3 separate regions of the Homo sapiens genome follow, and all the other regions are linked to region 1. Evidence: fine-mapped expression QTL. A gene starts in region 1. Each other region holds a variant in brackets. All regions are shown on one strand. Distances are from middle to middle.

The links. PIP is the estimated chance that this variant, and not a neighbour inherited with it, causes the effect.
Region 2: its variant is fine-mapped to the expression of GOLT1B in lymphoblastoid cells (GEUVADIS, PIP 0.95).
Region 3: its variant is fine-mapped to the expression of GOLT1B in lymphoblastoid cells (GTEx, PIP above 0.99). The same link has a PIP of 0.9 or more in B cells, T cells, monocytes and whole blood.

Annotation. Positions count from the first base shown.
Region 1 is chr12:21,500,583-21,503,430 of GRCh38, forward strand. It overlaps GOLT1B (golgi transport 1B), which reads left to right and starts at 1,207. Exons shown (of 5, transcript NM_016072.5): 1 at 1,207-1,366. The coding sequence starts at 1,342. RECQL (RecQ like helicase) reads right to left here and starts at 1,053. Exons shown (of 15, transcript NM_002907.4): 1 at 588-1,053. RefSeq lists enhancers at 337-406, 427-476, 517-706, 847-906, 857-1,564 and 2 more.
Region 2 is chr12:21,478,152-21,480,651 of GRCh38, forward strand. The region is part of intron 6 of RECQL (RecQ like helicase); the gene reads right to left. Among named protein-coding and RNA genes, the nearest start is that of RECQL, 22 kb to the right of the region's middle. The variant AT/A (reference allele first, on the strand shown) is at 1,199.
Region 3 is chr12:21,526,228-21,529,075 of GRCh38, forward strand. SPX (spexin hormone) reads left to right here and starts at 69. Exons shown (of 6, transcript NM_030572.4): 1 at 69-251; 2 at 659-739; 3 at 908-965; 4 at 1,500-1,562; 5 at 2,774-2,848. The coding sequence starts at 246. The variant C/T (reference allele first, on the strand shown) is at 1,317.

The DNA of each region.
Region 1 (2,848 bases):
TAAATAGGAGAGTAAACCAAGGATTTCTAATTCTTGATCTATACAAACATCTCTTCACGTAATGAAAATGTAACATTCCTTCCATAGACTGTAAGGTCCTTTAGCAGGGCTGGGGTTCAATCTCTTCACCTTTGTATCCGCACAGCCCAGGAAAATGCCTTGATGTAGTGAGGGCTCAGGTTTGCTAAGGTAGCAGGGGCTGTTTCTACCCTTATGAAAAGACACAGTCTATATCCAATTCTCCCCCACGATTTTAAATGACTCCTTTGATTATGCGGTTAAAAGACTGCTCCTTCCCAAAATGATGTGATTTAACAGCAAAAGATATCTCAACATAAAATGTATCCAGAAATTGAACTACAGCAGGTCTGTCACTCAGCAGTATAAGCTAGGCATCCACAGGAAGAATGTTACAGGGTGACAGCCAGTCATCAATGTTGGAGGAAACGCCACTGAGATACCATAGGCTAAATCCTCTCTCTCCCCGCCACCTGCATTTAGAGGCAATAGTAATTTAATATTAATAACGCCCGCCCTTCCGCTACTGTGAAGCAGGGGGTGGAAGAAGCATCCCCAGTAGTATTTACCAACAAATGGCAGCTGCTAATAAACAGGCTTTGGTGGCCAATCCTCCTGCATGGAAAAGAATGGGGAGATCAGAAGACCGGTCAGCAGGCGAACGTGCCCCTAAAGGCCCGAGTTCTCAGAGCAGGGCAGTGATTAACTTTCCGGTTTCTCCTCCGCCAATGTGTGGGCGAAAGGAAGTGATCCGCTACAGACCGGCCTCGCCCTGCAGCAGGAAAGGGAAGGATGAAACAAAAAGCGCACACCCTTGACCCTTCAAAGCTGTAACAGTAGTTATCCCAGAGCCTCTCCCCACCGAGAAGCCCGGTCTAACTCTCCGGTGTTTGACTGTCCGGTGTCCGACTGTCCTGTGTCCGACTCTCCGATCTCCGACTCTCGGATCTCCGACACCAAAGCACCCAGGCCTCGAGCAGATCTTTCCGCTACTCGGGAGTAAAATCTTCCCGCCAGCCAGCTGAGAGCATCCACCCTTCCGGGTCGGTCCGTTCAGCCAATCACAGATAACTCCCTTCTCTAATTGGTCAAGGGGTGTGGTCACCATGCGCGTCACCGAACAACATTACGAGTTATTGGTTGAGATTGGAAGCAGGTTTCGCCAATAGGAAGCGCTCTTAAAGCGGCAGTGAGGGTGGCTGCGTGTTTCCGGAAGACGTGGCGGCTCTCGCCTGGGCTGTTTCCCGGCTTCATTTCTCCCGACTCAGCTTCCCACCCTGGGCTTTCCGAGGTGCTGTCGCCGCTGTCCCCACCACTGCAGCCATGATCTCCTTAACGGACACGCAGAGTAAGCACCTGCTCCGGGGCCCCCGCCTCGAGCCGCGCACACCCATCGCCCGGCTGGGTCTCGCCCCTCCGCCGGGGTCAATGAATGAAGCTCTGGGTTGGGGGCGGTGGCCTGCGAGACAGAGCTAGGGCTGCTGGGACCCTAAGGGGCTGCCTTCGGGATGCCGGGGCTAGACTTGGACTGGCGGACCTGACCTGGGAGAAGAGTCTGTGGGGCAGGGTGGGACGCCCTATGTTGGGAGGGGAGCTTTAGCCCAGAGTCTGTCTCATTCCAGGGTCGCGCTGATCTCCTCATCCCCAGTGAGATGGGCGCTTTGTTCTAGGGGCTTGCCACAAGAGAAAGTTTGCGTGGTGCCCGCGGCCCACTCTCGGGATCGTTTATGCGCATGACACACTTCGGGTCCTCTACAAGTCCCTGGCTGGCTGGTTATTTGGGAGGCGGTATTTTAAATGTCACCTACAGTAGGCTCTTTTTGAAAATGTCCTTACGCTTAAATGTGGCATTTTGAATATTCGCTTTTTGCCAGTACTGTAAGCAACCTTTTAGAAGTCTCTTGAAACATTCTCACTTTTCTACCTGCTAAAGTTTCAAGCAGTAGAGAAAAGCCACTTTGTGTGCCATTAAAGGATATATTTCGTTAGTATTGTATATTGTGCTTTGTGGCTTGTTTTATTATTTTAGCATCGCTCTCTGCCTGCCACAGAGTTCTCCAGGCCTATTTCATCTCTAAAGCTAGCATTGATATCGGTTTCCTTTTCTTTCATTATAATATTTCCACTTTCCTACTGCTTTTTGTTAATATTAATAATTTTTGTATTTATGTCTGCCCAAGCTCTGTACCTCATATTTTGATGTTCATAAGAGTCTCTTTTTGTCTCACTTTGCTTTATCTGCCACGCCTTTCATTTCACTCCAGTTAACTCAGATTTTCAATATTTTAAGACTTAAACAGTGAATTGAAGTGAAAAATAGAAGTTTATTTAAAATGCCCTATTTTAAAGTGGAGTCTTCTTGTGGAGATTCAAGTCATGGCAGACCAACTTCACAGAGCTTCTAAGGCCTCCTACACACACTGCCACCCCCCAATCAGGCTGTCTTCCCTCCTGAGGCTGGACTGGGGCTGCCTCTTGGGGCCACCTGCCCCAAGGTTGCCGCCCACTTTGGTCCATTGGCCTGGCCTGTTCTGATCAAAGAAAATAAAAGTGTAGTCTTGAGGGGATAGGAATCTAGTGTAATAATAATTACTGGCAATTATATAAAGGTATTTTCTTTCAGTTAACCATGTGCTTTCATGTGAATCATTATGCATAATTCTTATAAGAGCCCTGTAAGGCTCACAGAAGCATGCCCCTTTCATAAGTTAAATGAGGCACAAAAGAAATTGAGTGCATGGTCAAAGAAAAAGTGACAGAAACAAAACTTGATCCCAGGTGTGCTGGCTCAGAAACCTTTTGCACTGTACCCCACTATCACCTAAGAAGA
Region 2 (2,500 bases), 23 kb before region 1:
ACATTACTCTTGGTCACGGTGGACTCAAGAGACAGTGGGTATAGCCACAGTGTTTTAATTTATTACAACTAACAAAAGATAAAACAGGCCATCAGACAAACCCCTGCTACCACCTAGTGTCATCAGACCAAAAAAATCTTGGTAAGGGCGGCACTGCTTTGTATATAACCTATTTCTCGGAAACCATTCTAGGCTCAAACTTGTTATAAGCATCTACATCACTAGATAAATTGTCACTTAAACTATTTGGAGGAAACTGAAAAAAATGTGGTAGAAATTGCTTACATGCTAAGTAGAGGACTACTATGAAAACAAAGAGGACAGAGCAGCTGCTTGGGAAGTGAAGATTTCAAGGAGATAATACTTGAGTTGTGTCTTAAGAGAATGAGCAGAAGTTCACTAGGAAGAGACGAACATCACGCAGAGGAAACAGCATATACACTGCAAATACACTGACATGAAATTAGTATGTTCAGATAACAGCAAGCAGTTCACTGGGGCTAAGTCACAGAGTCTTGTGGTGGATGGATTTACTGTCCAATCCATTAAGCTGTGAATTACATCTCCCAGAATCTCTTTCCTGTTCCAAGTTAGAGCTGACCCAAAAGAGGGACTTGTGCAAGATTTGGTGGCAGAAGTGAACCAGCTAACATCACTCCTTCAAGGTCTTTACACGCAGAGAGGATGATGGACAGATGCAGAAGTGCTCAGCCAGTTCTAGGTCATCCTAGTTCTTTTCCATTCCTCATTCAGCTGTTCCTCCCAACTGCAGGTCCTGCCAATCAACAGCAGACCCACAGAGGCGATAGCTACTCACAGGAAGTAGCTTACCAGAGACCTTTCCACGAGCTTCCCTTTAGGGGTCCCCTTTGCCACTGTACATGCCAGCTGCAGATTTCCCTACAAGCTCCGCCTCGTCCTCCTGCACCAGTGCTTAGGTATCAATCCATTACTTTTCTCTAATCCTCCAACTCCCCTCTTCAGACCTGCACTTCCCCAGTTCCTCCCACAATTGTTCAAGATCTACTTCCTACAGTAAAACCGTTATCCCATAACATTCATCGTGACTCTGCTTCTCTGCCTGAACCCTGACTGACACTGTTATGTACAAGGCAGGTTTAAGAAAAGCTATGAACAATTCAACCAGTTGATTCTAAGCTGAGACTTTATCCTACAGGAAATGAGGAATCATCATGTA[AT/A]TTTTTTTTTTTTTTTTTTTGAGATGGAGTCTCACTCTGTCACCCAGGTTGGAGTGCAGTGACACGATCTTGGCTCACTGCAAGCTCCACCTCCCGGGTTCACGCCATTCTCCCGCCTTAGCCTTTCGAGTAGCTGGGATTACAGGCATACACCGCCACACCTGGCTAATTTTTATATTTTTAGTAGAGACGGGGTTTCACCACGTTGGCCAGGCTGGTCTTGAATTCCTGACCTCAGGTGATCCGCCCGCCTCGGCCTCCCAAAGTGCTGGGATTACAGGCGTGAGCCACCGCACCGAGCCCATCATGTAATTTTTAAAGACCTATGCTTCATAAATCATCTTTTGGTGACAGTGCAAAATACAGACTGGAATAGACAAAACACTGAAGGAAAACCAGTTAAAAGATGGCAGTAACAGACCAGAAAACAAATAATACAGAATATAAAATGAGACATGACATTCAGGATAAATCAAAAAGAGTAAAGAGACATACATGAACCTACAGGTCCTAGTGACTACTGGGATATGGAGGTGGCAGGGAAGAGGGAGACAGTGCTGGATTTACCCATTCATCAATAGATAAATGTTGAACACCTTTTTAATTGTGTGCCAAGCATTTCCCTAGGCACTGAAGATAAAGTGATGAACAAGACAAAAATGCTATGCAAATGTGTCTATAATTCAAGCAAAGAAACAAGACAATACAAAGAGTAAACCAATAAATATGCCATTAGAGAGTGGTAAGTGCTCATAATGATAAGCCCAGTATGCTGGGGCTTAAGAAGAGAGGAAGAGTAGGAAATCAGGTAGACAGATGGGGGCAGATCACATATTACCCTATGGGCCCCAGTTAAGAACGCTGGGTTTTATTCTAAGTACACAGTAGCTACTGGGTAGTTTAGGTAGGGAAGTAACATGATTTGATGTGTATTTAGAAAATATCACTGGTTGCTCTGTGGAGAATGAACAAAAAGTGTAAGAACGGAATCAAAGACTACTTAGGAAGCTGCTGCAGTAGACCAGTGGAAGGGAGCTCAACTGTATGTAAGACGTAGGTGCACAGAGAGTAGACAAACTTGAGATTCATTCTAGAGGCAGAGCTGACAACACTTAGTGGTGGACTGGATCTGCAAAGGGAGGGTAAATCAAGGACGGTGTGTCATCCATTTTTTTTTTGTCATCTCTAACCCCACCCTTCTATACTGTGCTTTGGGATGCTGCACCAAGGACTCTGCACACTACGCATCAGCTTTGCCTGCTGGCCCTGGATGGAAGACACCATGGCTGCTTCCTCCCTAA
Region 3 (2,848 bases), 26 kb after region 1:
TTTAAACAAATAATTTCTGCCCATCAATCATTCCTCTACTTCCTGCAATGAAGCTCCCTGGAGGAGTCATCAGATTCTCAATCTTGCTTGAAGACTGACAAGATGTCCCTGTGGACTCCCAAACTCTACTCCAGATGGGGAGGTGCCCTTAACACCAAGATTTTAAAAGCTCCAATTTCAGAGCAAGAGTCGAAAACTCACAGATAAAGTTATAGTTATTTCAGGGTTCTGAAAAGACGCAGAACATGAAGGTAAGTAAAGGCTTTATTAACTTGAGACTTCTTAGCTATTTTTTAAAACGTTTTATAGCATTTTACCTATTTCATGTTTAATAAGGATTTTAGAGTTTAAAGGATATTTGAACGATACGCCTTTAGAATAACAGAATCATTTGATTTTACTAAGAAAAAAATTCACGTATTTACTTATTCTTCATTTGGGTGAAGTAATACAAATAATATGTTTCTAAATACGTTTTTTCAAGTGGACTCTTTGTGAATTAACTAGAAGGTAGAAGGGAAACACCTCCAGAAAACTGAGTATTAAAACAGAATATTGCGAGAAGTAAGGGGGTTTATAATTGTCCAGGCGTCAAGGAAGGAAGCAGAAGATCCTATTGGCACAGAAATGACCCTTTCTGGTTGATCGCTTCATATAGGGACTCAGAAGTCTGGCAGCAACAACCTTGGCTCTTTTCCTGGTGTTTGTTTTCCTGGGAAACTCCAGCTGCGCTCCGCAGGTAATCAAATGCAAAATAAAAAATTTTAAAACAATGCGCACTGTGTGTCCACTCTGCTCTTTCTTTCTTCCTTCTTGTTTTATTCTCTTCTTTTTCCTTTATTTTGCTGTAATAGAGGACTGAGCTGCAATGTTTTATTAACTGCTCTTCCCTTCCCCCGGGCTATAGAGACTGTTGGAGAGAAGGAACTGGACTCCTCAAGCTATGCTCTACCTGAAAGGGGCACGTAAGTTCCAAATATTTCGCTCTTCCTACAATAATGGAAGACCCCTAGGAGTCAGGAACAGATAGATGGAGAGTTATGGAGAGAGAATAATGTCGAGTTTATTCCCTTAAATCATCGAGGCCATCAAAGAGACCGGTAGGTGAGGGAGGGGTGGGAGAGGGGAAGAGTCCCTGATTATTGGAAATCCTCCATCCTTATTAGAAATTCTCCATCCAAAACTGGAGGGTTGCTTCTCTTGGTCCAAATGGGGACTCGGGTTGCCTGGGAAATATCTCAGTAACCCGACCTCCGCTCCAAAGCGCCCTTGCGGCGTCCGGTCAGGCGCGGGGCTTTCCTCCAGAGCTCCAGGGC[C/T]CCTGGCTCAGCCCGGGGTTGCGCTGGGAGCGCTGGAAACTCGGCAGCCCCGCGCGACCCTATCCTGGAGCAACCTGCCCCCTCCCCACGCCCGGGGACTGCGCTGTGCCGGGAGGAGCTGAGGTTTAAGCCCGGGTTGTCCCGGGCCAGGCTGTCGCTGAGCCCCAGGTCTCGTTTTTGCAGAGGGTCGCCGCTTCATCTCCGACCAGAGCCGGAGAAAGGACCTCTCCGACCGGCCACTGCCGGGTGAGTGACCAAGGGTGCAAGGGCGCTAGTCCTGCGCTTTTGGAATAGGATGGGGCGGGCAGGGCTTGCTCCGCGCTGGTGCCGAAAGAAAGCGTCTCCTCACCGGAAAGACGCGGCTCTGAGGCGCCCTCAGATACAGTCCGCCCGAGGGCAGCCCGGGTTGGCAGCAGCAGCAGCTGGATGCCGAGCGCCGGAGCTGGGAGCTCGCGCGTCCAGCCCCGCGCCAATGGTGGCAAGGGCGGCCCAGGCTGGCGCTGCGGCTCCCCAAGCCTTATTGGCTTGCGGCTGTTCAGCCAGCCCTCTGGCTGCCAGGGTGTGCAGAGGTCCCCAGGGAGTTAGGACCTGAGGTGCAGCTCAGAGGGGTAAGGCGAGATAGGAAGAACTATGCAAATGCTTCTAGAAATGTATCTGCGCGTTTGTGCAGGAACTTTACTCAGCCTCCTCTTAAACGCTGTTATTATTAAAATAAGAACTTACCTAGGAACTTCAAATGTATGCTTTTGTTTGACTAGAAAGAACTATCAAAGGTTCAAAATCAAAAGAGTAACATGCGGGCAGTTAAGGATGGGACCGGGGACTGTTCTTTTTCATGATAAACCTTTCCATCGTATTGTATTAACAAATAACAATACAATTTGATGAAATTGTAAAGATTGAAATGCTAAAATTAAAAAGTATACTTACTTGGAAAAATACCAAACACTGTTGAACACATAGTAGGTGCTTAAATTTTTGTTTAGGCTCTTCAAACATGCTGTGTAATTGAGCTTATTTATTTTATGAGGTTAAGATTTGTTTCTCAACTTCAGTTGCCCCAAATTAGAAATCATGTTTTGTGCTGAATCAGAACAATTTGTCTTTTTTCAACTTAGATTTGAAATAACTTTGAGTTCTTAGCAGATACTCCTTCAGTCAAATAATTACCTTATATTTGGCCGCAAAGGTTAAATTATTATCTAAAATTCTCTTTGGCATATAGTTTAACATTCTCTTCCATACCCTGTTTGTAAACTTGACATAACCAATTGTAAGTCATTTCCAAGGCAATTGTGACATGTTAAAAAATTAGTCTTCTGTGTAAGTAGTCCTTTGTTGAGGGGTCAAAATCTATTTCATAGAGGTTTTTCTAGTATTGCTGCATGTTAGAATAGGACTTATCTACATCAATATATAAATGCTAAGAGAATCTGTATACATTTTTGTTTCTGCAGAAAGACGAAGCCCAAATCCCCAACTACTAACTATTCCGGAGGCAGCAACCATCTTACTGGCGTCCCTTCAGAAAT